7 separate regions of the Homo sapiens genome follow, and all the other regions are reported to be linked to region 1. Evidence: microRNA targets listed by miRTarBase, many of them from high-throughput screens and not tested one by one. Region 1 holds a microRNA gene; each other region holds the end of a gene's coding sequence.
The links. The annotated mature microRNA hsa-let-7a-5p reads UGAGGUAGUAGGUUGUAUAGUU and lies in region 1 at 1,623-1,644, shown strand. An mRNA with a match to its seed (bases 2 to 7 or 8) in the 3' UTR can be bound and repressed. Matches are read on the target gene's strand: a 7mer-m8 pairs with bases 2 to 8, a 7mer-A1 pairs with bases 2 to 7 and ends in A, and an 8mer does both.

Region 1 (4,064 bases):
AGAGATTCAGCACCCCCTGAGCCTCAGTTTCTCCACTATGAAGTGGGATCCGTGATCTCAGCCTTACCAGGGCTGTGAGGATTAAATGGTCCAGCCCAGCCTGGGGCCTGCCTGGAGTAGGCAGCCTGCTCAGGATGGGCTGTGGAAGGAGGGCTGGGGTAGACCTTTCAAGTCCACTTGGGCATGGGGAGCTGAGAGCTAGCATGCCGTTTAACTTGGCAGGAAGCAGGCCGGGCGCAGTGGCTCATGCCTGTAATCCCAGCACTTTGGGAGGCTGAGGCGGGCGGATCACGAGGTCAGGAGATCAACACCATCCTGGCTAACACGGTGAAACCCCCTGTCTACTAAAAATACAAAAAATCAGCCGGGCGTAGTGGCGGGCGCCTGTAGTCCCAGCTACTCGGGAGGCTGAGGCAGGAGAATGGCGTGAACCCAGGAGGCGGAGCTTGCAGTGAGCCGAGATCGCGCCACTGCACTCCAGCCTGGGGGACAGAGTGAGACTCCATCTCAAAAAAAAAAAAAAAAAAAAAAAAAAAAGCTTGGCAGGGAGCAGGACATTTGGACCTCACTCTGCTGCCCCCTTGGCTGTGTGACATCCAGGTCACGTTGCCTCTCTGGGCCTCGGTCTCCTCACCTGTTTAAGAGGGGTTGACAGTCGTATCTGCCCCCTCAGCTTTTCCCCAGGAAGGTGGTAGCCACAATTAGCATTTGTTGAGGCTGACCCTGCACCAGGCCCAGGATAGGCGGGGCTTAGGGAGGCCCGTCTCTCGCCACGTTCCCCTGCTAGGGGAGCCCCGAGGCCCTCTCAGTGTCATCCTCATGCTACACTCTGTCCCAGCCCTGTGCGTCCCAAGCTAGGGCACTGAGTGTGCCAGCACCCGCAGGGACAGGCACTGGACCCTGGGTGGACCTGAGGGTCTGTGACTACCCCCCCAGCTGCTCTCCCCTAGAGGCCACTTCCCTCAAGGAAGGAAAGAACCTTCCCGCCACCTCCTGCAGTGCGGTCAGCTCAGGCCAGCCTGCACAGCAGGGCCAGAACCAGGGCCCCTGGGGAGGGATGCCTGCCTGCCCAGTGGGAGGAGACGGCACGCCCGTGAAGCCGCTACTCAGCCAGCCTGGGGGCCACGAGTGCTGCTTCTGGTGGCGCTGTGCGGGGAGGGAGGGGGCCGAGCAGGGTGGGCACTCGCATGCCTGTGTCTTGCTGGCCTTCGACAGATGACAGCCCTCCTCCTAGGGTCTCCAGTGCAGAGTTCCTTGGGGACATTATGGCCACTCCTGTCCAGATGAGAGGGAGCCGGCTGCCTGTGACAGCGTCGCAAAATGCCGCCAGGGCTTTCCCTCCCTCCTCCTTTCTCTCTTCCTCGTCCCTCTCTGGTTGGTGGTTTCCTGCAGGCTCCCGTCCCTGCTGGTGCTGGCCACAATGTCCCCACTCCCAGGGTTTCGGCGTCCCAGCCCCCTGCGCCCACCGCGCCTGCCCGCCAGAATCCCTGTGCCCTTGGTGCGTGTGGCCTGCCGAGCCTCGAGCCCCTGTTCTCCTCAGCCCTCTTTCCTCCCGCGTCCCCAGGAGGTGCCTCTGGAAGCCACGGAGTCCCATCGGCACCAAGACCGACTGCCCTTTGGGGTGAGGTAGTAGGTTGTATAGTTTGGGGCTCTGCCCTGCTATGGGATAACTATACAATCTACTGTCTTTCCTGAAGTGGCTGTAATATCTGCGGTGGACAGAGCGTCTGGAACCCTGGCTGGGAGCGGGCAGGGCCAGGTTTGGGGGCAGCCTTGGCAGCAGTCGGGGGCAGGGGCCGCCTACACTGAGAAGTCTGACAGGCCTAGGTGCCACTTGCTGTGTGACCTTGGACAGGCCCCTGATCTCTCTGGGTCTCAGTTTCCTCCTCTGTAAAATGGAGGCAAATGAGGATGGAAGGAGATGCAGTGTGGAGCATCGAGGGCAGAGGAGAGCTGAGCCGACCCCACCCTCTGCCCCAGCCGCACTGAGAGAGGCGATCCACGCAGCTGTTTGTCTGACCTCTGTCTCCCAACACTCCCCAACACTCCCCCCGCCATCAGGCCCAGGCTCATGGGTGGCCCTGAGCCGTACCCTCCACTGAGCACCAGGAGAAGGCACCGTGGGGCCAGGGGTGGCCGAGACGTTTGGAGGTCACAGGGCTGCGAGTATTGGCGTTGCCCATCACCCCAGGTTCCCAGCACGTGCCCCAGCCTGGCCAGCTCAGTGGCAGGGCCTCTGCCTGTGGAGGAAGGGAGGCCAAGGCACCTTTCCTGAGCAGGAAGTGAGAGGAACAGCTCTGCATACACTGGGTCCCACATGGCACAATCTGAAGGCAGACAGTGGCTCCTCTGTACCTGGGGAAACTGAGGCCCAGAGAGCCAGGGACTTCCCAAGACCAGCCAGCAGCAGCTGCCCCTTCCTGGGGTGCCATCTCCCCTGTCCCTCCTGCCCTGCGCCTGCCCAGCCCTCCTGCTCTGGTGACTGAGGACCGCCAGGCAGGGGCTGGTGCTGGGCGGGGGGCGGCGGGCCCTCCCGCAGTGCAAGGCCGGGCCTGGCGGGGTGAGGTAGTAGGTTGTGTGGTTTCAGGGCAGTGATGTTGCCCCTCGGAAGATAACTATACAACCTACTGCCTTCCCTGAGGAGCCCAGTGACACGACCCCATGGGAGGGCCGCCCCCTACCTCAGTGACACGACCCCACGGGAGGGCTGCCCCCCACCTCAGTGACCTGCAGGGGGCCTGAGCCGAAGCTGGGTGGGCATCTGGGAGCTAGATTCAATAAAGCTGTTCTGACCATGAACTTGGAACTGGCCCCTTTCATTCTGGAAGCCCAGGGACTGGGCTCTGGGGCGCGTCTGCTGCGGGACAGTGTGGAGGCCCCTGGCCACGAGCTGTTCCAGGTCATGAGACTTGTCTGCTCACGCCTCCCGGTGCCTCCAGAGTCCTCAGTTGGCTCCGTGCTGTACCCTGGGCTCAGGATCCCAGGCCCAGCCCGTTCTCTGCCCTCTCGTGCTGCCTTTGAGCCAGGCGGGCTGAACACCGGGACCCAGGCCCGGTGGAGAGGTCCCCACGGGGCAGCCACCAAGGCCCCAGGTCAGCAGCTCAGAGCACTGCCAAGTCCTGGCTCCTGAGGCCACCTCCGTGCCTTAAGTGCCTTGACCAAAGTCTGGACGTGCCTGTCCTTCCGTCCTCCCTCAGGACAGTTTCCAGGGCACCCGTAATTCCTCTGACAGACTGCCATCCCAAAAGTGCACCCATTCTCCTGGGAGGCCTCAGGCCCTCGTCTAGCAGCTGCCGTAGGCTGGGCCCAGTGATCCCGCCCTGGGCATGTGGGGTGGGCTTGTTCATGCCTGGCCCAGCACCGAGAGCCCCTGGTGGGGAGGGGCTGATACAGCTGGGCCCACACCTCCCCCACCCAAGTGCCCATCCTCGCCCCTCCTGTTGACCCAGGCCACAATCTTGGCCCAGATTCCCCCCTGTGCCCTCCTGGCCTGCCTTGGTTCTGCAGGCAACCCCAGCCCTGCATGGCCACGTCTGGGCAGACCGGCACCCCTACCCTGACACCCATCTGTGCCAGTCCTGCACGGCAAACACCTCAGAGCCCAGGCCTGCCTACCCTCCCGGAGCTGCTGCCACCCTGTGGGCCAAGGGCAAAGGGACGTGGAGGAGGGGCCCAAGGGCAGGGAGGGCTTCCTAAAGCAGGGACCATCTGAGCTGGGTCTTGACAGCTGCGTAGGAGTTTGCAGCTGGAGATGAGTGACGTGCCCCATGGTCCCTTCTCCCATCATCCTCTGGGGCCAGAGTGGGTGACACATGGGCACTGTCCAAATCCCCTTCTTCACCCCATAATTAGTCAGCAGCCACATCTGGCCACTTCTGTCCTCTAAACACCATTTCCATCCCTCCCCACTCCCACTGCCAGGCCTCAGAGTCTCAGAGCAGCCCCCTCTGTCTCCGGAGCAGATCTCTGCTGACACCCTTGCCTGCACTGCCTCCCAGCACCCCTCCCTCATGCCTGTGCTCACCTCCACCAGGACTCTCCTGCTCACCACCGCTCCCCCACCC
Region 2 (4,063 bases), not on the chromosome of region 1:
CTGGGCTGAGACAAGATTGGGAGTCATCAAGAAGCAGGGAGTTGGTTTCTTCAGGGAGGGGAGGGGCTGGTGGGCACCATGGGAACACACAGATTTGGTTATCTGTCATCCCTCACCACAAACTGATCTTTCTTCTTTCCTTAGTTTTAATCAGCTGGATCTGCCTGCCTATGAGAGCTTTGAGAAGCTCCGCCACATGCTACTGTTGGCTATCCAGGAGTGCTCTGAAGGCTTTGGGCTGGCCTAATAAGGCCCTGCCCAACTCCGTGGGGTTTTTTTTACCATTGTTGGACCTGGGGAGGGGGGAGTTAAAAAAAGAACCAGAAAGAAATTGTCAAAAACCAATAAATGAAATCCACCAACTCACCGTGTGTGTCCCAGCTGCCCCATCTTCCCCAGCGCATACCTGTTCCTCTTCTCATTCTCTCCCCGCCGCCTGTTTCCTCACCTTCTCTCCCCTTTCCATGCCGTCCATGATCCCCACCCCATGTGTTTTAAAAAGGCAGTAGCCTTTGCAGGGACCTGTCTGTCCCAACTGTTTGAACAGTGTGCTCCTCAGATTCTGTGTTCAGAAGGATTTGCTGCATTGAGACTTGAAACCTTTGGATAGGGGAAAAAATTATATATATATATATTTTTTTGTTCTGTTTGCATTTCTTAATTTGTGCTTGGAATGTGTTGATGTGCACAGCTAATGATTCAATGCGAGACAAGATTGGCGTCTGTGTTGTGGAGGTTTCAAATAAAGAGCACTCTTCATAACTCACTTTTCACAATGGAGTTTTTTTCAAACTTAAAAAAAAAAACAAAAAACTCTTAAGCACATGCTAGGCATCTGGAGAAAAGATGGATTCTCCAGGAAACCATCCCTGCCCTACCCGCTTGCCCACCTGCCTCCACCACTGGTGCAACTTCCTCCTTCAGAGTCAGTTTCTGCAGTCAGGAGAGATGAGCAGTTCACCAGGAATTGGGGGTGGGGGCATCTGTTTTTTTTTTTTAGAATGGGAGCTGCACTTGGGGATGGTGATGGTGTTAGAGATTGCAGCCCAGGACAAAGCATCACCTTGCTCAAGGGGAACAAACTGCAGCAGGTTGTACAAAACATTCAGAGAGCTCACTTGACCCAACCGAGGGTTTTACTTGGTGAGCCTTTCTAGTAGTCTTGAGTCTGGGGCTCAGTTTTAGATTTTTATTTCATTAATGTTTGTTTATTTCTAATAAATTTTAATAAGCGAGTAATTTAACTAGGTCGCCAGAAGACCATTATTTTTGTTTGTCTATTTTTGTTGTCGTCACTCCCTCTCTCGTCATCTGTCTGCCAGTCTGTTCACAGATCACCTTGTAGTCCCTTGTGGTTTTTACTCCATCCAGTGCTTAAAGCTGATCTAAGGACTTCGATGGTTCCAGCCTTCAAAGAAAAAATAATTTAATAAAAATTTAGTTAGAAAAAATAACCCCAAGTGGTGCTTGCCTTGTGTGGTTTTTCTCATTTTCCTGGGGTGCTACCTCTGAACAGATTGTCCCCTTGACCTTGTCCCAAAGTGTGGGTCTAGGAAAGAAAGGGTGTGTCTTTAACCTGATCCCCTGGTCCTGGAGCCAAGGCTGCTAGCCATTTTCCCCTTTTTTAGTGTTCCCACTCTTTTGTGCCTGGCCCTGCTTTGATGACTGAGAAGGCAGAGGAATTGCCCCATCCGTGTTACTGAGCTTCTAGTAGGGAGGCGAAGACAGTGATTAGTTTTGTGACAGATGAAGAAAGGGGTCTCAGTGCACATAGAAGTGCCTGACCTAGCCTGGAGAGTCAGGGAAAGCTTTCCATCGTCGGTGCACTTGGATTGCAGCCTAAAGCTGAGCAGGAGTTGAGGTTAAGCAGAGAGGGGTCATATAATTCAAGGCAGGAGGAGTTTAGTTGCTTAGAGTCCAGCAGGACTTTAAAATGGAAGAGATACACCAGGTGCGGTGGCTCACGCCTGTAATCCCAGCACCTTGGGAGGCTGAGGCGGGTGGGTCACCTGAGATAAGGAGTTCAAGACCAGCCTGGCCAAAATGGCAAAACCCCGTCTCTACTGAAAATACAAAAATTAGCCAGGCGTGCTGGCGTGCGCCTGCAGTCCCAGCTACTGGCAGTCCTAGCCACCGCGCCAGTCCCAGCCAGGTTCCGTGACTCACGCCTGTAATCCCAGCACTTTGGGAGGCTGAAGCAGGAGAATCGCTTGAACCCGGGAGGCGAAGGTTGCAGTGAGCTGAGATCACGCCATTGCACTCCAGCCTGGGTGACCGAATGAGACTCGGTCTCAAAAAAAAAAAAAGAATAAGCAGAGAGTAGAATTTGTCAATAAGCAGTAAGATTAACTGGTTCTTTGAAATAAAGGTCTGGCAGGTAATTTAAATTTGAAAGTAAAGGGGGGGTTCCTGGGTTGGAGGTTGGGGGTTGGATGTGGAAGCTGGGAGTACAGATGGAATAATCCTATGGGAAATGGAAGCAAATCTCATTCAGTGGGATACTACAAAAATAGAGCATGATCAAGTGTGATTTGCCCCTGGGATATGTGTAGTGTAATATTAATCGCCTCATTGTCAGTTGAGAAATCTTTGTCCGTAGATGGCAAGGCATTTGTTCACATTCAAGAACCATTCCTGGCAACCTTTAAAGGTAAAGCTAGCTTGATAAGGTAGTTTCAGACCAACAGCCAACATCACACTTGAAAGATAAGGTGGCTAATTATCACTATTAGTGCTGTTCTGCTATTCTGCAGTTTTCTATTTCAGTAAAACAGGAAACAAAAGGTATAACTTAAACCATTTGCTAACGGAGTCAAAAGTTATTGGAGCAGGGCATGGTGGCTCATGCTTGGAATCCCAAGGCTTTCAGAGGCCAAGGTGGGAGGATTGCTTGAGCTCAGGAATTCAAGACCAGCCTGGGCAACATAGCAAGACCTCTCTACTGAAATTTTTTTTTAATCTAGGCATGGTGGCACACACCTGTAGTCCCAGCTACTCGGGAAGCTGAGGTGGGATGATCGCTTGAGCCCCAAAAATCGAGGCTGCAATGAGCTATGATCACGCCATTGCACTCCGGCCTGGGAGACAGCGAGACCCCGTCTAAAAAAAAAAAAGTATTGGAACTTAAAACAGTCTAGCAAGAAACTTGGCTATAATGAACAAACTATTCACATAAACTTATTACCTAACATAAATGAATTGTGACAAATTCCTACAATGGAATCCTACACAGTAGTAAAAATATCAATTGCATACATCACATGCACAATCTCAATGATAAAGTTTCAGGCTGGGCGTGGTGGTGCGTGCCTGTAGTCCCAGCTACTTGGGAAGCTGAGGCGGGAGTATCACTTGATCCTAGGAGAGAGGTCAAGGCTGCAGTGAGCTGAGATCATACCGCTGCACTCTAGCCTGGGTAGCAAGTGAGACCCTATCTCAAAAAAAGAAAAAGTTTCAGGAGGGTACATACATATAAGACCTGCTCAAAAGTTGCAAAATCATGCAACATGTATGAAGAGTATGAAAAACCATGAGGATGATAAAATCTTGCACAATGTTGAGGATAAGTTATGGGACAATGCAGGGGTAGACAGAGGGGATGTGGCTGGGAAGAGGCACGTTACACAGGGCTTCAACTACATTGGTGATGTTTTCTCTCTTTTTTTTTTCGAGTCAGAGTCTTGCTTTGTCACCCAGGCAGGAGTGTGGTGGCGCATGATCGGCTCACTGCAACCTCCACCTCCCAGGTTCAAAAGATTCTCCTGCCTCAGCCTCCCAAGTAGCTGGGACTTCAGGTGTGCACCACCACGCCTGGTTAATTTTTTAAATTTTTAGTAGAGTCAGAGTTTCTTCATGTTGGCCAGGCTGGTCTTCAACTCCTGGCCTCCTGTGATCTGCCCACCTCAGCCTCCAAAAGTGCTGGGATTACAGATGTGAGCCACTGCACCTGGCCTTTTTCTTTTCTTTTAAAGTAATATTTTGTCTTTGTTGAGTCTGAGTCTCAACTCTGTTGCCCAGGCTGGAGTGCAGTGGTGCGATCCCGGCTCACTGCAACCTCTACCGT
Region 3 (4,076 bases), not on the chromosome of region 1:
AGAAGAAAGGATGACAGGTACACAGCCTATAAAAAGTAAAAATATTTTTGGGTTTCTTAGGCAATTCGGATTTTGGTTCAGGAGCGCCTGACACAGGATGCAGTTGCTAAGGCAAATCAAACAAAAGAGGTACGTTTCTATAAATCCTAAATAAGTTGTTAATGAACATTTCTTCTGGTATGGCCGTGATTTTAAACTTTGCATGTATCTGTTTAAGATATCCATTCTACGTTCTACAACTTAGAGAAAGGATAGCTTACTTCAGTGCTTCCTAAAGCAAATTGAATGTATTCAGTGGCTAGGGGGTCATTTTTGAGTGAAAAACTTCATGTTCCTCTCACTTTGTACCTTAAAAAAGCCACAAATAGCTCATGCACAGTCCACAAATCATGCTTGTGGCCCGTTGAAGTTTATTTAAAATGAGTTACCCATATGAAACTTACTGGATTATTTTGACTCATGCTGGAGAAGAAGGAACACACCTCACTACAAATTAGTTTTCTTTTTCTATCTAAATTCTATCCTTGCTCTTATTTCTTCAGAGTAAATTCTTGTTTTATTCAATTTCCTGGCATAAAACATGAGAAAGTAATTTGGCTAAGGTCACCTAGTTGGTAAGTGACTGAGCTCAGGCAGTCTGACTTGAGAGCCTGTGCTCTTACGGTAGGTGGGGAGAAGGGTCCATGCGTGGATGTCTGCATGAGCTTGTCAGTCTGCCCAGGTGAAGGGACAGGGGGTTCTGTTGGAGTGTAAGGTTCAAGGTACAGGTGACTGAAATGGTATCTTTCAGTCCTACCTTGTAGGCTGAGAAAAGCTATATCCCATGACTACCTTCCCCTTAAAGAGAAAATATGGAACATTTTTAGATTATATCAGAAATCCAAAGATGCCTAAAGTTTCACTGGCTGTGCAGCGGTGGAGAGACTGTCCTCAGGTCAGCAGCAGCAGTGTCTGATAACACCTGCCTCCTGCAGCAATGATGTTGTAGTGAATGCCTTGGGCACAACTATGTTGTTTGTCCTCCCTGCGCCCTTCCCCCATCTCCCAATGCCTTTTGTCCTCCAGCCCCTTTAGGCAGGCCAAGCAGTGTTAAAAGGTTACTAATGCCAGGGCAGTATCTCTGAAAGACACTGTTTTCTTTTAAAGGTTCTTACTGGCTCGTTGTATATGAATCGAGCCACTGGAAGTTGGGTTAAAGATCAGCTTATTTCACCCTCCCTATAGAACAGACAGTAAATTGTTCTGGTGTAATAAAGTCAATCATTCATTCATTCATTCCTTCAGCAAAACTATGCTTTGGAAGGCAGTGTAAGTAAAGGCTTAGCCAAATCTCTTTGCTCTTGTTTGTAAAGTAAAATTTAGTTTTATTTTTAATGCTCCCAATTTTAATTTTGGTGTCATCTCAAAAGATACCAGCCTATAACAATTTAGTGGAGTTCTTACAGTCTAGTGTACTTATAAGCATTTATAACTACTATTTGAGGCATATGGTAGTTTTCAGGGGTAGCTTGGTGGCCTGTTGGCAAAGGAAAAAAAAGTGGAGCCTCTGGTACTAGATGAACATATAAAGCCACTCAGTACAATTCTGCTCTTTAATTTTGCTCACTTGTGCTTTCGTACCCATTGGTTTCTTCAGACTTACATGTGTTAGCTGTTTTAAAGCAGACAGAGCCTACGTAGATTTACATTACTAGATAAGGCAAGAATTGAGCAGTGACTAAAGCATTTGAATAGTAACAGGTTGTAACATTGAAAGATTGAAAGTACGGGTAGTGTGTTTTTCTTGGCAGTGATTTTATATAATCAGCAGGAAGTACAGACTGTCCTCATTTTAGAATTTGTTTCTGTGAAGTTTGGCATCACCATAGTCACCATCTTTAGTATGTCCATAGGTGCTGAGTGGTTTAGTTTTTCATTTTCCTAGACTGTTTGTTTCAAAGTAACTTCCAAGTCAAGTCTTGAAAGTTAAATTATACATAATTATACATAATCTTGGCAAACACCATGCTGGCTGAAAGGTTCGTACAATTTGTAAAGACAAATTAATGTGCTCAGAAATGGAATATAAGGTACTATTTTTGCCGTTTATACTGTTGCTTACTGTCGCCAAAATAAGACAGTAACAGCCTGGCTCAACTTGCCTTCCATAGCAGTAATGACAAGGCACTGCTGCAATAAGGATATATTGTTTTGTATGCCTGGGCTAAAGGATTGGATGAGCTATAGAGCTTCCTGGTACATTTAAAGGTTAACTTTTCCCCCTAACCGGTTGAAATAGGGAAAACTCGCTAATCACAATCATCACAAAGCAAATATAAACAAAATTCCTAGTTCCCTTGCCCATGCAGCTAAAAGAGTTAAGACACCAGAATAGCTAGGTGCTTTTCAGTTTCAGTTGAGGAAAGGATGCTATTCTTAACCATAAATACTCTCATTTTGTCTTTCTTTTTTTAAAGGGCTTACCTGTTGCTTTAGACAAACATATTCTTGGTTTTGACACAGGAGGTAAGTGATTTTGTTTAAATTCAAACTATTTTTTTTACAGACTGAATACTTGGGAGGAAATAAATGGCCTTAAATGTAAAAATTATGTATTGAAGCAGTGTTCTTTTCTCATAAAACAGATGCAGTTCTTAATGAAGCTGCTCAAATTCTGCGATTGCTGCACATAGAGGAGCTCAGAGAGCTACAGACAAAAATCAACGAAGCCATAGTAGCTGTTCAGGCAATTATTGCTGATCCAAAGACAGACCACAGACTGGGAAAAGTTGGAAGATGAACACTTGAGGACTTCAGCTTCTCACCTACTTAGTACAGTTGGGAACCATACACTTCTGGCATGTTTGGAAATCAAAATGTCACATTCTCGGGGGAGGAAGCCCAGAAAATTGGGTATGTTCTAGAGATTTACCACCATTGCTTATTGCTTTTTTCTTTAATAAAGTTTAGGAAAGTAGAATTTTTATTATGTACTGTATGTTTGCATAAATCACCTTTCTCCTTTGTGGTTAAGGCATATATGCCAACCCCCAGCTTTGTCCTAGAGACAATATAGATCCTTAAGTCATAGGAAAACTTAAAACACTTTATTGGAGTAATCTAGAAAATTTTAAAATTGTTACATCTTTGGTATTTATAAATGTGATACTTTACTTTCTGTGGGTACTTCTATAGAGGCACTACAGGATCAGAAAATGCAAATTGAATCATTTTAGCACCTTTTGATATAAATAGAAATGCACTGATGCAGAGGTAAAAAATCTTAGAACTTTTGTTGGGAAACTATAAATAATTGGTCCTTTCCCATCAGTTCTGCATTGGCTTCTCCAACTGTCAAGGTTTAGGATTATATTGTTATATTGATCACATGTGCTTTAATTTCTTGGCCAGAAGGAATCCATGGCAAAAATCAGGTTTAGAGTCTTAAACTCTAATTCTTAGTTGAATGAATTTGATCTTTTAAATATTAATGATAAATGTTTACAAGAAGTTGCTTTAATAAGCAACAGTTAAAATTCTGTTACCTTTTTAAACTTGCAATAACAACCTTCATTTTTAAAAATACAGTAGTAAAGATTGAGGTATCAGCTTTTCACAAAAGTCTTTTTGCACTACAAAATGTTCATCTTGGATGCTCAGGAACGTCTAATGGCCAATTCCTTTTTTACTTTCTTTGCCTTTGCAGTCACTGTTCTTTAGGGTCCAGGTTCTGATTGTAAACTCCAAGTCTTCCTTTACATTACTGTACTTACTTTCTTCCTGTGAGAGAAGAGCAGGGGTGGGACAGGGTGGTGGGTGAGTATATTGTAACCAAGTTGCAACAGCAAGTCTTTGCATTTTGTGTATAAACTAGGTAGATTTAAGGTAGTAAAGACTGGCCCTCAGGGCAGGAAGAAGGCAATGGTGGCAGTGTCACAGGCAGCAGGGGTAATCAAATACCATATATATCCCTTCTCTACCCTGCTAATTTAAAGGAGCATCCTAAAGCATACTTTTTACCTGTTGGGCAGTAGGGGTAGACTGCAGTTATCCCGTAGAGGTGAGATCGTTGTTCTGGGAGATACTCATCAGTAAAC
Region 4 (4,076 bases), not on the chromosome of region 1:
GCTATGCTGGATCATCGCAGGCACCAAACAAGTCTGCAGGTTCTGGGCCTGGCAAAGGTAGTGTTTACCTCTCCTTTCCAGGATAAGGCCTGGAGTGGTGGGCTCCTGCCTGATCCCCTCTCAGGCAGGGCAACCCCTGAGTGATCCTGGAGGTGGGGAGCCTGGAGCTGGGAACAACTGCTGTGGGGAACAACTGCTTTTCCTCCTAGGAGTATCAGTGTCTTCAAGCACCACTGGTCTACCTGATATGACTGGTTCTGTCTACAATAAGACACAGGTGAGGGACAAAGGTGGGTTGGGTGTATAGGTTTTTGAGAGGTTACAGCCCAACCTGACCTTCACCATTGTCTTCTTTGCCCTGTAGACTTTTGACAAGCAGGGATTTCATGCAGGGACGCCTCCACCTTTCAGCCTGCCCTCGGTCTTGGGCTCCACTGGGCCCCTGGCCTCGGGAGCGGCCCCTGGCTATGCACCCCCACCATTCCTACACATCTTGCCAGCCCACCAGCAGCCCCACTCACAGCTGCTGCACCACCACCTTCCGCAGGATGCACAGGTGAGTACAGTGATGGAGGCAGCCACCCTACTCTGGGCCAGGGGTTCTGCTCCAGCCTTGACAGCCTTCCCTTCTCCTCTTCCTCAGAGTGGCTCGGGTCAGCGCAGCCAGCCCAGCTCCCTGCAGCCCAAGTCTCAAGCCTCCAAACCTGCCTACGGCAACTCTCCATACTGGACAAACTAAACCCAGAAGAGAGGGGTGGGCTGGGGCAAGGCTTATCCTGGGCAGGAGAGAACACACGAGCACGTATTTGGGAGCCCAGTGCCCTTTCCTAGAATTCCCGACATGTGTCAGCCATGCCTCTGTGGGGAGTCTGCCTCCCAGACTGGCTACTGTATGTAATGTATTTATGTATGTATTTGTAAATGTGATAGAAGTCTGGGGGGGAGTTGGGGGATGGCGGCAGATGTTAGCCAGGTCTGCCCTCCCCATTCAAGCCCCTTCTCCACTGTAGCAAAATAAGCACCCCCACCCCATCTGCCTTCAGGTCTTCTTCACAGCCTGCACTGCCCAGTGGGCCACTAGGGGCAGTCTCTGGAAGGGCTGGTTCAAGGCTGTTTGGGTATAGGGGTCAGGTACCAATGAAGAATCACGACTTGTCTCACTCCTTTGGAAATTGTTTTCTTTCCTGTGTAATTACTTCATACCTCTGTTTTTGAGAAACTGTTCCGTTTGTCATCTGTCATGGTCTCCTTCCACCAAATCTTCATCTGGGAATAGCAGCGGTATCCCTCCACCCAAGTATGGCCACCTGTTTGTCTTCATATAGAACAGGGGCTTCTGGTCTGGTCATGTCCCTAGAGACTTACTAGAGACTGGCTGACCATGAAAAAAAAAAAAATAATCTGAGTTATTCAGCCAGTCAGCTCCCCTTTAAAAATCTAAGGTATCTCCAAGCAACACATCTCCATTCTAGTTGTCTTGAACCACGTGGGCAACTGTTTCAGGGGTTTTCTCTTGCCCAATCCCCACCTAATAAAGTTCTGAGAGCATGCATGGTCTCTGTGTGGTGTGACTGAAGGGCAGCTCAGGGCAGAAGCCCTGGACTTCACAGGGCTAAAGGAGATCCCACATGGTCATAGTCTTCTGACACAGGCTATAAAGGCTTGAAATGGTTTTCCTTTTTACTGGACCCTCTTGGCCCAAATCACAATGGCTGTAAGGACAGCTAAACCTCCTTACAGGGCCCAGGCCATGTTGATCAAAGTTAACCTGGCTTTTCTTATAGCTCCTTAAGAGACTTAGGGATAGGGCAGTGTCCCACAGAGCCCTGTCCACTGGATACCAGGGCAGGGTAATTTCTTTTCCAAATCTCAGTGGACTTTTACAATCTGAAGCAAAGCCAAGAACTGAGAGCAGGGTTCTAGGCCTTAAGGGAGAGTATGAACAGGTATACCTGTCTTTTGCTTGTCATCAACTGAACATAATCTTGATTGGCAGTCAAAAGCTATGGTAGAACACGTGACTAGTGAGGGTGTCATGAGGTAGGCTGGTGGATCCGGGGCTACATATCTGCTCCAGAAAAGCCCAACCAACCATTCACCTTGTGTCAGGTCAGAAGCCAGGGAGTAACCAAGGGCCATAGGAAGGAGGCAGATCTCCTGTTGGCCAACCACAACTGTGCTCCAATCCAGCAGGCAGGAAGCTCAGGGCCTAGAAGTGTTGCCCAAGGTGCTACAGCCTCTCTTTTCACTCCTAAATCGCTGCTTCAGATCAGGTTAAAGGAGGAAATAAAATGGCTAGTCAGGTGATTGATTGATTGATTGTGTCAGAACCAGCCTGGGGTCACAATCTACTTTTTCTGCTTTTGGCCTCTACAATTGAGAGCGATGGTCCTGTCATCAGATGGGACCGATACTCCTATTAACCCACAGCTTGGGACCTTACCTAGAAAAAAGGTAAGTGTCTACAGGTAAAATTAGGACTTTTATTAAATAGGGTGATCTGCCTGATCCCTGCTATTAGCAGCAGTAAGTTAGGAAAACAAATGACAGTGAAAATGTTTGCCTAAGGAAAGCAGCAGAGCACCCCTCAATCCTTCACTGACCTACTTGTATCAGCTCCCGTTTTCAGAATCAAGTTTAACAAATGGCTACGTCTATAAGGAGCTTGAAGGGACTGGGGATACACCAGGGAGGTGAGTTAGTTAGAAAGGCAGATTCCCCAGTTTTGGTTTTTGTCTAATTTTTCAGCTGAGCCCCAGCGTAATCTGCAAACTTAACAGTGATAATGAGACCACCTTTTAGTTTTCTTTAACACAAGGTAAAAAAAGAAGAGGGTCATTTCATGGGGAAGTAGCAATACAGGTATTTTATTTCACATTTTATTAGTAGACAGATGGGCAGAAAAAGACAAAATAAACCACTAAAGGGGAAGTCAACACAAAATCCGTCAGATAATCTTTTCTCATAAGTTAAACTGAAGCAAAACATCTACAATTTCAGCTAAAACTATTAAAGTCAGGTGTGTCCTGCTGGTTTCAGAATAGTTGAAAATTGCATCTGAATCCTTTTAGTTGTAAATGTAAACCTTGTTTGTTTTATCAGGATGGGAGGGGTGGAGAGTTCCTTTCCAGTGGAGAGCTGCACATTTCCCCTTCCAATCAGTTTCTTACAACATGTGCCCCAAACGTAAGGAAACCAGCAAGTAAAGAAGCAATTTGCCAGGGTAAGGGAAAGAAGGTTCTACAAAAAAGTTTGACTAATAGAAAATAACTCTGGAATGATTGATAAAAGGAGAAGGGGGGAAGACTGAAAGAATCAACAGCAGAATCATATACTTCTCCACCCAGCCTCAAAATACACAGAACTGAAGAGCATCTAGTGAGGCCTCAATTAGAACTAAAAGGAATCTAAAAATGCAGGATTTTGAGTTCATGTCACATCAAATAATAAGCAAAACTGTACGTACATGGTTCCGGATTGAGCCTGAGACCTCCACTCCCAGAAGGGGGAAAAAAAATTACAAACTCAAGTATTTTCCACAGGGATGTGTTCTCAGGGACAGAGCTCTGGAACCAGCCTCTGGGTTTCGTTCAGTCAGTCTAAAATACCAGAATGTCCACCTGCTAGCAAGAGACTTACCCAGTCTTCTGGAACTGATTGTACTCATCAGAGGCAAACCCAGCCCTTGACACTTTTAACACCCCAAAGGGCTGAAAGGTACAACCTCCACTTGGCGCTCCGGCTCCCTGAGTCAATGTCTAACAGAGGCCAATAGGGCCTGATGGAACAGCTGTGCAGCAGAGCACCTCCCGCAATGCCAGGGTGCTGGGGCTGCCCTGGGAGTGAGATGCTTTAGCAAAGGGGAATGAAAGGCTTAATTTTAGGGCTCCAAGAGAATAAGACCAAGCTACTGGCTGTAAACTTGCATGGGGGTTTGGGGGCATTTTGGGGGAGGTAAATCAGCACTGTGAGAGGCTTTGGCTCCACAAGATTTGCAGGTTAATCTGGAAGCATTACTTACAAAGTATGGGGAGTAAAAAGGTAGTTCCAACATCTATGAGAGTTTGTAATCAGGT
Region 5 (4,000 bases), not on the chromosome of region 1:
TCTTAATAGTCGGGAGTACTGTTTGAACATTATTATAAAGTACCTACTATAACCTTGAACTCCTGGTCTCAGGTGATCCTCCCTTCTCAGCCTCCCAAGTAACTGGGATGACAGGAATGTGCCACTACACCTGGCTAATTAAAATTTTTTTTTTTTTTTGTAGAGACAGGGTTTTGGTATGTTGCTCAGGCTGGTCTCGAACTCCTGGCATCAAGTGATCCTCCCACCTCAGCCTCCCAAAGTGTTGGGATTACAGGCATAAGCCACTATGCCCAGCCTAGAAGTATTTTATAGGATGAAGAAAAGAGTCGTAAGACAACTATTCATCTAAGACACAGATGTTCTCAATACAGGATCTAGTAAATCACTACTTCATTTTTGCCATTAGAAAGTAGATGTAACTATTGTGATATCATGCCTGTTTGCTAGCACCTTTCTGAAAGTGCACTAAGCCACAGAGGAGGAAAGCAGTCCCTTGGCTTCCGTCTACTTGGATGCATGTGATGTGTGTGGCACACATGGCAGAGCTGTGGGCATCTTGCTAGCTGTTGAGCTTTGGGATCCATTCTGATTGCTTCTCCCAAATGAGGCAGGGGGCATCTCATTTACACGGATACAAACATTCCATTGCCTTCTTTTATTGCTCAATACTTTATTCCCACTGATGATATCAATCACGTTGTTGTGTTTAGTTGTGTATACTTCTGTTAGAGTTCCTTGAGAGTCAGGCCTGTGCATTATTTATCTTTGCAGCCCAAGTACCTGGCATATGCTTAGCACACAATAAAATAATAATTCAATGGGAACTGAATATATGAGGTTAGACTTCACAAGTCACTTGCCCTACCAGTTACTGTATGTTTAATTATTCAGTCAACAAGTATGTGAGAGCTTTCTATGTGTGAGGTACTACACTATGCACTGGTCATATAACTTCTGAATGGGCTGTAATTCAGCAAAGAGCCAAGCCTAGTATGATTCAGCAGGAACTACCAGCCTCTTAGTGGAAAGGGCTTCTTGGGGAATATGTACTTTTCTCTCTTCTAAAGAGTAACTTATGGGGCCCAAAACTTTCTCTCCTTTCATTCTAGGGCTAGGAAAGAAAGGGTAGAAGGCACATGACATACTTAGGTCCCACCCTCATCACACTCAACAGAATATCATACTAAGAATCAAATAATAAACTTTAATTTGAATATAATACAGTAGAATATAATAATTATTTTGAGGTACAAAAATAATTATAAAATACTTTTCCCATTTGCAAGTAATGTATGCTATAGACTATAAATAGTACACTGATGCCAGAAACTGTACATATTTCACTACATGCCTAAGTCTGGGTCTTCCTCTCTCCTCCATCATCACATGTAAGAAAACCAGCTATGCAATACTACTTTGCAATCTTGAAACTCTGTTAAGACATTTCAGAAGTAGCTATCTTTAATAAAAGAATTAGATGGTACCTTTCTTTAAAATAGTATGTATGTTTTTTGGCTCAATCCTATAGATGAAAAAGTTTACAAAAATTAGATTTCTGCCATTTTTGGAATATCTGCTTTTTTTTCCCAAAAGACAGGAAAATGTCAGAGAGAATCTAGAGTGCTGAATTCAACACAAGCTCATTTGAAAGTAAGTCTCCATCAATGGAAAAGCTTTTTGACTATAGGCAATTTGAAAATAATAGCAATTCACTGGAAGACAAATTTCACTGCCAAAACCTGCAGACGAGTTCTCCCTGTCTTTTCTATTACTGTGTTTCCTAATATTTTAAGTGAGGTAAGAATTACAAGAGTGATTCTAAAAATTATAGCAGGTTCTACCCAGATGGGACCCATCTAGTTCCTAAGATGCTGAGAGCCATTTATTATTTAAAAAGTAGGAACAACATGAGGAAACAGAAGCTTTGGCATATGAAAAAAGATGTAGCTTTGCTTCCTAGAATTCAGTTATTTAGGCCAGTTTATTTTGATTTGTGCTCTGAACTGATTATATATGGGTCTAAAGATAAAAGACAGAAAAACTGGCCATCCTCATGAGTAGAGGTGAAATAACCCCTTGAGACAGTCCTGAAGGTGAAGGAGATCTTCAGTCATCGATCTCTTCTTGGCTGCTTCCACTCCTGCCATTTTCTCATCTCCTTTCTATACAACTCCTTCATCCACAAGTGGAGTGCTGGGATAAATGGAACAACTAATACAGTGCCTACGGGGATTTTCCTGACTTCAGTGCTTGAGGAATTCTTTCTTTCAGTTCTCTTCCCATCTATTCTCTTCTAGGTAGGGATGGCTCTGCACTTTCTAGACCTGTAACACTAGGTACCTTAAACTAATAGAAAAAAACTATATGGTGTAAAAACAAAGGTAGTATAAAACATAGAAAGATGTGGGTCTCTTTTCTGGAAATAGGTTGTGAGCTTAAGAATGCTCAGTTGTATGTTATAAGAGCTCAGAAGCCTGGGGCTGGAATATGACTTACGACAGAGAGCCTAGCCATTAGGAGATTCCCTCAAAGGACTTTATACGATTCATGTTTTATTATCGTTACATTAATAAGTGCCCACAATACATATAAATCACTGTAGCCCTACTTTCAAAACTGATGTTTGGGCCAGGCGCGGTGGCTCATGCCTGTAATCCCAGCACTTTGGGAGGCTGAGACGGGCGGATCACGAGGTCAGGAGATGGAGAGCATTGTGGCTAACACGGTGAAACCCCGTCTCTACTAAAAATACAAAAAATTAGCCGGGCGCGGTGGCGGGTGCCTGTAGTCCCAGCTACTCAGAAGGCTGAGGCAGGAGACTGGCGTGAACCCAGGAGGTGGAGCTTGCAGTGAGCCGAGATCGCACCACTGTACTCCAGCCTGGGCGACAGAGCGAGACTCCGTCTCAAAAACAACAACAACAACAACAACAACAACAACAACAAAAACTGATGTTTGTTAAGCAAGATACATTAACAAAAACCTAACCTGCTTTGTTACCTAAAATAATTATGGTACCAAACTATAATGGACTAGTGAGATTCATAAACATTGTTTCTTGAATACCTTTAGAGGTACTACAATTTTTTTCATAGTACTCACCTTTTAAAACATTGCAATACTCATCTTACTGCGCTGTAACATGTTATTATCATCAACAATTTAATTACTGAAAGAGTAATCCCATAAATCTATCCTATTAATGACTGGACAGTTTGATAAAGTAGCTTACTGCCTTTCTTAGAAACACATAGCTAGTTATTCTCCCAAGATTCAGAGATGACGTTATAAAACCCTTTATGGAATTCCCCAATAAAATGGGATAACGTACAGAGACGCCTTAAAGTTAAATGATACAATGATGCTGATTCTTGAACATCAAAGATGTTTGTTATTGCAGCCAGGAGACAATGCCATAAAATGCTAACAAAAAAAAGTTATACTGTTTTCCTTAAAGTCAGTAAATTGCATAAAAGTACTCTGAGCATTTTTGGAAGAAAGGCACCAGATAAGTCCAAAATCTTATTGCTACTAGGATCATACAGGGTCACAGACTATGGCACTCTGTTCAGCCAGGAGACTAAGTCTCAGCAAGTCAGTCTCTGACCTTGAGGCTTAAAGAGCAAGGAAGGAAAATGTCAATAAAACAGAGCCCTGTATCACAGATTAAACTGGAGTGAAAATGATTTCCAGTTTTATGTCAAAGTAGAAGCTGGTTCCTAGGACGCTGGCGCTATTTTAGATGGACACTCTGTTTTCTTTGGCCCATTTCTTCATGATCCGGATCATGTATTCTACTTGGGTGTTACCTGTGCTTCTCAGTAAATGGAGCACTTCTCGAAGGGTCTCTCTGAGGAAAAGATTTGAAAAGACAAAGTGTTTCAATGAAGAATGAAAATTAAAAAATAAAATAAACTCTGAACTGTCCTTCATACTGTATGTCTTGTAGGGCATTTTTGGTAATAGACTCTTTCACTGTGTATTCACAAAGCAATTACAAACTGCCTAGCCTTATGTT
Region 6 (4,076 bases), not on the chromosome of region 1:
TGTTGGCATATACCACAGATTAAGGAAGTTTTCAGCCATTATTTCTTTAAATATGCTTTTTGGCCCCTTTAAATATGCTTTTCAGGCACCTCTTTCTCCTTCTCCAACCACTATTATGTGAAGGTTTGGTCTCTTGATGGTGTTCCATAATCTGTAGGCTTTAATTTTAGAAATTCTTTTGTTTTTTTTGCTCCTGGCTAGATAATTTCAAACGTTCTGTCTCCCAGCACACTGATTCTTTCTTCTTCTTGGCTGAGTCAGCTGTTGAAGCTTTCTGTTGAATTTTTCAGTCTCTTGAATTTCTATCCCATTCTTATTGTTTCTATTTGTCAACTTTCTTTTTAGTGTACTGTTTTCAAATTTCATTAAATTTTTTATCTGTATATATTAATAGTTCACTGAACTTCTTTATGGGTATTATTCTGAATTCTTTGTCAGTTATTTCATAAATCTCCATTTCTTTGGGGTCTATTATTGGAGCTTTATTAGTTTCTTTTGTAGGTGTCATGATTCCCTGATTCTTCATAATCTGTATGTTCTTGTATTGTTGTCAGTGCATTTGAGGAGACAGCCCCCTCTTCTGGCCGTTACAGGTGTTCTTGGGAAGGGATAGACCTTCACTATTTAGTCTATCCTATGATTCCAGAAGGGTCAGCTGATCAGTTAAGTGATGCTGATGCTGCTGATCTAGAGATTACTTTGGGAACTAGAAACCAGTGGATCATAAGTTATTCTTAGCTTATAATCTTTCATTAGCTGTCTTCTGTCTACAAAAGTTCCAAGACATCTGTCTGCTTATTTGAAGTACTTATGAAAAGAGCACTTTATTGGGCTTCACACTCAAGATTGTTAATAGATCTGATATCTATTACGTATCTCATACATATTTCTGTTAATGAACACCCTAGTGTGACAACTGGTTTACTTGTCTGTCTTCTATTAGTTAATGAACTCGAACATCACTATCTCCGGCACCCAGCAGTGTTTGGCATATAATTGCCCAGTACATAGAAATGAGATGCCTGGCTAGCTTAATAGAAATAAAAAAATTAATTAAAAAAAAGAGAGAGAAACGGCACAACAGGTGGCAGTGGTGGTGACTGATAGGGACAGGAAGGAAAGGAGGATTAGGAATATAAACATGGAATCAGAGTAAACAGGATATTGAGGAAAACTTCTGTCATGCTCATTCCTGTGAACTACCCTCCTCTACTCCTTTATTTACCCACCTTAGACCACCCAGACTAGTCAAGTATCTTCTTTCCTTTTCCAGTATCCCAGTTCACCCAACTGAACTTTTGCTATACCATGCTTTCCACAAACAATTTTAACTTGCCAACAAAGAATTACAAAAAAGGTCATTCTTTAATGATTACACATTTTTCTACTATCAGTGAGCAAATATAGTGTCCCTTCTGTTACATGAACTATAATAGGATATCCGGGTAACTAGTAATTTTTCTCTCTTCCATGAACGTGGCCCCTACAAAAACAAAACAACAAAACAAACAAACAAAAAACAGCTGGAATGTGTAGAACACGTTGAACTAAACGGTCTTATGCCCCGTATGCTGCCATATCTGGAGGTGAGGGTAGGAGGAACTTTGCAATTCCATTAGCCAAAATTAATTTTTATTTATTTCTTATATCCACTTACTTATTTAGCCAAGCCAGCATCTGGTTCTGTGCTATTCCCTTAGGATAGGACCAAGACAGATCAAGCCAGAAGGGGCATCATATTAGTTCATAAGACTGGTCTGTTATCTCTAATCAGGGTTTTCTGGGTTACTTTCCCAAGCTGGAGCCAAGTTGGGGCAATTTTGATGAGATATCTCTGTGCCCATGCCACCCATTTTGCTCTCAACTGCTGAGTAATCTCATGAAAATGTTGCTGCCAAGAGAAGCATATTTTCAAGATCCTACAGAAAGAATAGAAAGATGGCAGATTCCCTACCCTTCCCACCCCTACCTCAAGAACCACTATATTTAGGCTGAACTACTTTAAAAAGCAACTAACCTAATATATTTTCTTGCTATTCTTCCAATATACCAACTTGTCCCCACCTCAGGGCACTGCCCTTTCTGCTACTGTAACATGGAATTCTCCCCAAAGCTATTTATATGATTCAGTCTTGCTTTTTCTTTGCTTAAAAATCATCTCCTCAAAGATGCCTTCTAGCAGTGCTATTCTTACCACTATTTCCTTGTCCTGATTTCCCTTTGCTACACTTATCACTACTACCAGGGAATGTTATATTACACATAAATTTATTTGCTGTATTTTCTGCACCACCTAACTCCCCCACCCCCACGCATATTGTAAGCTCTGTGCAAGTAGGACCTTTGCATTTCTCATTCACTGCTATATCCCCAGGGCCTAATATAGTGCCTACTGGTTAATATATATTTGTTGAATGGTTGAACAGACTCAGACTGAATGCCAAATAATGTTAACTTAAAAAAAAAGTATACACATCAAAATATTTAAAGAAACAATTATTGATTTAAACATAAAACTGATATTGGGTACCTTGGTTTTACAAACACTCCTCACAATACTTCCCCTTGGTGAAGCCTTTCAGGAACTCTTCTGCAAGAATTATTTTCAGAGCCAGCTTGTCAACGACATGATTGGTCTTTTTACTTCATAAGTCTTATTTTGTTTCACCAAAAGCTTCACAGTGTAACAAACCAAACTCAGCACAGAAAACATATGACAATATATTTTAGATTCTCTAAGACAAGGTCTCATAAGTTTAGATGACAAGTGACAACATCAATGGACTAAGTATATCACCTCCCATAACTTAAAAGGCTAATACTCATAAACATGAAAGTTCTGGAGTATGAAATTTAAAACACAAATTTTGGATATAAATTATCTGAGTACAAAGCTGTAGGTAATTCTTATCTTTCACTTCCCCTCATAACTCCAAACATAACGCCATTGTAGGTGGGTTGCTGCTAGACTACATCCAAGATTGTTCAGCTGAGGACTTGCCCACTCTCCCAGTTACTTGGAATTTTCAACCTTCCCATACTCTAGCCCACATGGCATTTGCACTCAGCTTCTCCTACTGATCCAGCCACACATCATCTTCTTCATGAATGTGGGCAGTCTAAAGACTTCCTGTCTGGCAAAGTATTATTTCAAACAACTAAGAGGAAAATCTTTGGAAGCAGAAGTGGAAACACAGGAAAAGTGGCAGCAAAACCCTCAGCCTCAGGATAGTAGCTTATTCAAAAGTATATTTAAATGTCACAGGGTAAAATAGACCAGCTGAGTCCGTATCTTAGAAAGGAAGCCTACTGCTTTCTCCTGGTAGGCAACAAAGAGAACCCCACCTAGGACTTTAACCCACTCTTTTCCCAATGTATTCCAATACTATTAGCCAGCTGAACTAAAAGAGAATGGGTGCTGGTAGGCAACTCCATTGATCTCCCTTTCTTTAGCAATAAGTACTGGCCAGCTGAGGGCTAAAGATAATGAGGATTGAAAGAAAAGCAGACATACCAAAGGTACTGTGTCAAGTAATACATGAGATGTGTTCATAAACGAATGAGTTATTCCAGAGCCATACAAACAAATCAATCTCTTTACTGGACAGGCATACCTCTCATATGTATATTATTCGAATATACTAACACATGAAAGATCACATCACCTTGTTTACGGATACATTTAATATCCCTTACTCTTCCCGACTTTCAAAACATAATAGTATACAAAATATAAAATATCTTAAATATTTATAAAAATCACAAGAAAAAAATAGAACGTATGAAAATATTTTTATCTGAGTTCTCCCTCATTGTTGAGAGGCAGCTTAGTTTGCCTTGAGTTCATAACTGTTGAGTGGGTAGGAGTATGCCCTGCCTAATACTATTCTGTCCCGGAGAAGTTTAAATAAAACATAGTAGTTGCAGAAGAGGATGAGAGCCATGGAAAGTGTGTGGTTCCACTTCTCCGACCGCAGCAAGGAATAGAGCTGATAGAAGACGACACTGCCCTCAATAAGGATGAGCAGATTTAACAGCCTTAATGGTCGATGAAATAAGAACTGTAAGGAAGTTAA
Region 7 (4,065 bases), not on the chromosome of region 1:
AAGGGAATCAGAGTGGGTCAGCGAGTACGGGAAGTGTGGTCCACGAGGGCTGGTTCCTGAGGGAGAATCCACAAGCCCCCTCCCCTCTTCAGTGGATACTGAAGACTCCCTCGACGAAGGACCCGGGGCCCTGGTATTGGAGAGTGATTTGCTACTAGGCCAGGATCTGGAGTTTGAGGAGGAAGAGGAAGAGGAGGAAGGCGACGGCAACAGTGACCAGCTCATGGGCTTCGAGAGAGACTCGGAAGGTGGGTTTTCGGGTCTTGGTTAAGGATTAGCGGCCGCTGGAGACCCCAGCCCTTCAGGAGGCAGGTTAGGTGAACAGAACACCATTTCCTGCCACAACCGAGGGCTGGTTTAGTTTACATTTGAGCTAGATGACTTCATTTGTTTAATGGTCCAATCACTTCCATCACTTTGTTGAGGTGAAGTTCTGAGGCCTGGTCAAAGGTGATAGGAATAGGAGGGTGGGTGAATCACATGGAGCAACTGATTAAAAGTAAATGCCCTGTCTCTCTCCCTAGCCCATTCCTTATGTGTATTTACTTTTAAGAGAGGTTCAGGGAAGCAAACTCTCTGTAAATCATTCAACCCAGTATTTAGGTCTAATCTAACTCCCTTTCACCTGCAGCGTAAGCTCCTTTTGTATTGAGAGGTTTTAGTTTCTGTCTTTATCCTTCCATGTCCCTCTTCCCTGTGATCTTAGCATCACCCTACCCTAATTTGCTGCACTACCCATCCACTTATGCAAGATGTTTTTTGAAAGTCATTGAGGGGATCCATGTAAATATCTGTTCTTTAGGCAGGCAAGTGGTATTACATGCATTACTTTCATTGTCTCCACTTCCCTCCAAATTTTGCCTCAGAGATAGGTTTTATTTTATATCAGCTCCTTACTAAAAGGGGCCTTAGCAATAGAGCTTAGAAAAAGGTCTTGGGGGCTCTCTCCCTTTCGTATTTTTACTTTCTTGTCTCAAGAATTAATTTCATTATGGATTCATTTCAGTCTGTGATCCACTGTGAGCCCTTGATCCTTGACCATTGAGGGAAACTAGATACAGGTCAATTCTACCATCACTAGATTAGTCCAGTGTAAGAGGTAGACAATTCATGTTGAATTTTCTGGAATTACTGCAGGGGAGACCTTGATTCCTAGGAGGGAACTAAAGGGATCATCAAAGCTAAGGGTGGAGCCAAGCAAGTGGGGAGACCATAAGTGAAAAGGGGAGAGTTTGGAGCCTGATCCTACCCTATGCTGATGTCTCTTCTTATGTCTATTTCACCAGGAGACTCTCTGGGGGCCAGGCCTGGGCTTCCCTATGGGCTGAGCGACGATGAGTCTGGGGGCGGCCGGGCACTAAGTGCGGAGAGTGAAGTTGAGGAGCCAGCCAGGGGTCCAGGGGAGGCCAGGGGTGAGAGGCCAGGCCCAGCCTGCCAGCTGTGTGGGGGGCCGACAGGTGAGGGGCCGTGTTGTGGGGCAGGAGGGCCGGGTGGGGGGCCCCTGCTGCCCCCACGGCTACTGTACTCATGCCGCCTCTGCACCTTCGTGTCCCACTACTCGAGCCACCTGAAGCGGCACATGCAGACACACAGCGGAGAGAAGCCGTTCCGCTGTGGCCGCTGCCCCTACGCCTCAGCCCAGCTCGTCAACCTGACACGACATACCCGCACCCACACTGGCGAGAAGCCCTACCGCTGTCCCCACTGCCCCTTTGCCTGCAGCAGCCTGGGCAACCTGAGGCGGCATCAGCGTACCCACGCAGGGCCCCCCACTCCTCCCTGCCCGACCTGTGGCTTCCGCTGCTGTACTCCACGACCAGCCCGGCCTCCCAGTCCCACAGAGCAGGAGGGGGCGGTGCCCCGGCGACCTGAAGGTAAGACACACCAGGGACCAAAGATCTTGGGACATGGGTGGCTGACCCTAGGAATGCTTGGATTGGATTCATAGCCCAGGTCTTTGTCCCCACAGATGCTCTGCTCCTTCCAGATTTGAGCCTCCATGTGCCACCAGGTGGTGCCAGTTTCCTGCCAGACTGTGGGCAGCTGCGGGGTGAAGGGGAGGGCCTCTGCGGGACTGGATCAGAACCACTGCCAGAGCTGCTATTCCCTTGGACCTGCCGGGGCTGTGGACAAGAGCTGGAGGAGGGTGAGGGTAGTCGGCTGGGAGCTGCCATGTGTGGGCGCTGCATGCGAGGAGAGGCTGGAGGGGGTGCCAGTGGGGGGCCCCAGGGCCCCAGTGACAAAGGCTTTGCCTGTAGCCTCTGCCCCTTTGCCACTCACTATCCCAACCACCTGGCCCGGCACATGAAGACACACAGTGGTGAGAAGCCCTTCCGCTGCGCCCGCTGTCCTTATGCCTCTGCTCATCTGGATAACCTGAAACGGCACCAGCGCGTCCATACAGGAGAGAAGCCCTACAAGTGCCCCCTCTGCCCTTATGCCTGTGGCAATCTGGCCAACCTCAAGCGTCATGGTCGCATCCACTCTGGTGACAAACCTTTTCGGTGTAGCCTTTGCAACTACAGCTGCAACCAGAGCATGAACCTCAAACGTCACATGCTGCGGCACACAGGCGAGAAGCCCTTCCGCTGTGCCACCTGCGCCTATACCACGGGCCACTGGGACAACTACAAGCGCCACCAGAAGGTGCATGGCCACGGTGGGGCAGGAGGGCCTGGTCTCTCTGCCTCTGAGGGCTGGGCCCCACCTCATAGCCCACCCTCTGTTTTGAGCTCTCGGGGCCCACCAGCCCTGGGGACTGCTGGCAGCCGGGCTGTCCACACAGACTCATCCTGAACTAGGTCCTTCTTCCCCATGTTTTATACAGACGGACCAGAAGCCACCTTTTTCTCCCCCGCTGGCCAGGGGCTCCACACAGACTAACGTAGGCACTATAAGGACCAGCCCAACCCCATGGGCGGGGGGGCCCATATGGACCAGGGGACCTTGCCTTGACTGAGGCACTTCACGAGCTCAGTGAGAAGGGCCCTGTATTCACCTCCACTGCCCCCAGGGGCTGTGGACAAACCGGCTGGGGGACTGCCCAGCCTCCCACCTGTTTATTTAACTTATTTCAGTGCTTTATAATAAAGGAAACACTAACAAAGCCATGTCTATGCTGAATTGGCAATGGCAGGCAATTTGGCCTTACCCTTAGCATAGTAGTCCATGCTGTGATGGGGGAAGCAGGGGCAGTGAGAGGGAACCAGAGGTAGGCAGCAGTCAGGCTGAGTTTAATGATGGGGAACTGGGCCAGACCAAACACAGACCTCTGCCCATCCCCTTGGCCTTTGGCCCATGGCTCCAAGAGGCCAGAAGCGGCCCAGAGGGAGATATGGTTCCTCCCCAAGGCAGGCAGCCATGGTCCCTTAGACTTTGTGCAAAATACTAAATGCTAATTTGGCATCGAGGGCCAGCTCTGAAAAGAGAAGGGGCAATCCTCTGTGCAGCCAGCCCAGGGGACAAGGAAAGGTAGGATACGAGGCCCCTGGCCAAGAGAAAAGGGGTAGGTAGGAAAGAAGAAGGAAAAGACCCCTCCGCCCCTAGCATGGGGGACACAGGCACAGGGCAAGTTTCTGTAAATTCCTCTGGGGTAGAGGGCAGACATCCAAGCAGTGGAGATTACAGATCCTCATCTCCAATGCCCTCGAAGGCGAAATTGCCGTGGACATCACTGGCACTGGCATCTGTGCTGGGACTGCCAATTCCCCGCAAGCTCACGGCACTCAGCTTACTCTGTAACAAAGGCAGGGTGGGGTCAGAGATCTTGGGCGTGCAAGATCCCCCAACAAACAGCAACCTCACCAACGCTGGAACTCACTGAGAGTTTGACCATAGACTCCCGGGTGGCATCAGGTGACTCCTGGGGAAGAAGAGGCAGAGGTGTCAGAAACTCACTAGGAGAGGTGAGGCAGGGCTGAGAGCCAGGGTTCTGACCAGGAGGTAATACTTACAAGCAGTGGTGGGGACTTCACTGCTTGCTGGCTGTCTGAGCGTCTCAGAGTACCCCCCACCCGCCGGCGCAGCATCTGGGGACAGACACAAGGTGCCGGTGAGGGCAGGATC

Region 2: miRTarBase lists HUWE1 as a target of hsa-let-7a-5p. The part of its 3' UTR that is shown has no 7-base or 8-base seed match.
Region 3: the mRNA of NID2 is a reported target of hsa-let-7a-5p. Seed matches in the 3' UTR shown: 7mer-A1 at 3,578-3,584.
Region 4: the mRNA of UBAP2 is a reported target of hsa-let-7a-5p. The part of its 3' UTR that is shown has no 7-base or 8-base seed match.
Region 5: miRTarBase lists IFT56 as a target of hsa-let-7a-5p. Seed matches in the 3' UTR shown: 7mer-A1 at 1,776-1,782 and 7mer-A1 at 1,226-1,232.
Region 6: the mRNA of TMEM39A is a reported target of hsa-let-7a-5p. The part of its 3' UTR that is shown has no 7-base or 8-base seed match.
Region 7: the mRNA of SNX17 is a reported target of hsa-let-7a-5p. Seed matches in the 3' UTR shown: 7mer-m8 at 3,209-3,215.

Annotation. Positions count from the first base shown.
Region 1 is chr22:46,111,130-46,115,193 of GRCh38, forward strand. MIRLET7A3 (microRNA let-7a-3) reads left to right here and starts at 1,620; the gene lies at 1,620-1,693. LOC124905135 (collagen alpha-1(III) chain-like) reads left to right here. Exons shown (of 2, transcript XM_047441696.1): 2 at 1-2,799. MIRLET7BHG (MIRLET7B host gene) reads left to right here. Exons shown (of 5, transcript NR_110479.1): 5 at 1-2,799. It overlaps MIR4763 (microRNA 4763), which reads left to right and starts at 2,437; the gene lies at 2,437-2,528. It also overlaps MIRLET7B. RefSeq lists an enhancer at 1-181.
Region 2 is chrX:53,529,493-53,533,555 of GRCh38, reverse strand. HUWE1 (HECT, UBA and WWE domain containing E3 ubiquitin protein ligase 1) reads left to right here. Exons shown (of 84, transcript NM_031407.7): 84 at 145-1,460. The coding sequence ends at 247. Among named protein-coding and RNA genes, the nearest start is that of MIR98, 25 kb to the left of the region's middle.
Region 3 is chr14:52,001,738-52,005,813 of GRCh38, forward strand. NID2 (nidogen 2) reads right to left here. Exons shown (of 22, transcript NM_007361.4): 21 at 4,000-4,076; 22 at 3,072-3,759. The coding sequence ends at 3,749. It overlaps RTRAF (RNA transcription, translation and transport factor), which reads left to right. Exons shown (of 8, transcript NM_016039.3): 6 at 61-129; 7 at 2,457-2,505; 8 at 2,625-4,076. The coding sequence ends at 2,779. Among named protein-coding and RNA genes, the nearest start is that of RTRAF, 14 kb to the left of the region's middle.
Region 4 is chr9:33,919,167-33,923,242 of GRCh38, reverse strand. UBAP2 (ubiquitin associated protein 2) reads left to right here. Exons shown (of 29, transcript NM_001370062.2): 26 at 1-57; 27 at 210-277; 28 at 365-556; 29 at 644-1,550. The coding sequence ends at 739. It overlaps UBE2R2 (ubiquitin conjugating enzyme E2 R2), which reads right to left. Exons shown (of 5, transcript NM_017811.4): 5 at 2,844-4,076. Among named protein-coding and RNA genes, the nearest start is that of SNORD121B, 13 kb to the left of the region's middle.
Region 5 is chr7:139,189,153-139,193,152 of GRCh38, reverse strand. It overlaps IFT56 (intraflagellar transport 56), which reads right to left. Exons shown (of 18, transcript NM_024926.4): 18 at 1,167-3,832. The coding sequence ends at 3,721. Among named protein-coding and RNA genes, the nearest start is that of UBN2, 40 kb to the left of the region's middle.
Region 6 is chr3:119,428,154-119,432,229 of GRCh38, forward strand. It overlaps TMEM39A (transmembrane protein 39A), which reads right to left. Exons shown (of 9, transcript NM_018266.3): 9 at 796-4,061. The coding sequence ends at 3,828. Among named protein-coding and RNA genes, the nearest start is that of TMEM39A, 33 kb to the right of the region's middle.
Region 7 is chr2:27,376,276-27,380,340 of GRCh38, reverse strand. It overlaps SNX17 (sorting nexin 17), which reads right to left. Exons shown (of 15, transcript NM_014748.4): 13 at 3,954-4,028; 14 at 3,821-3,862; 15 at 2,806-3,735. The coding sequence ends at 3,622. It overlaps ZNF513 (zinc finger protein 513), which reads left to right. Exons shown (of 4, transcript NM_144631.6): 2 at 93-248; 3 at 1,287-1,874; 4 at 1,970-3,106. The coding sequence ends at 2,796. Among named protein-coding and RNA genes, the nearest start is that of ZNF513, 2.4 kb to the left of the region's middle. RefSeq lists enhancers at 995-1,865, 2,480-2,639.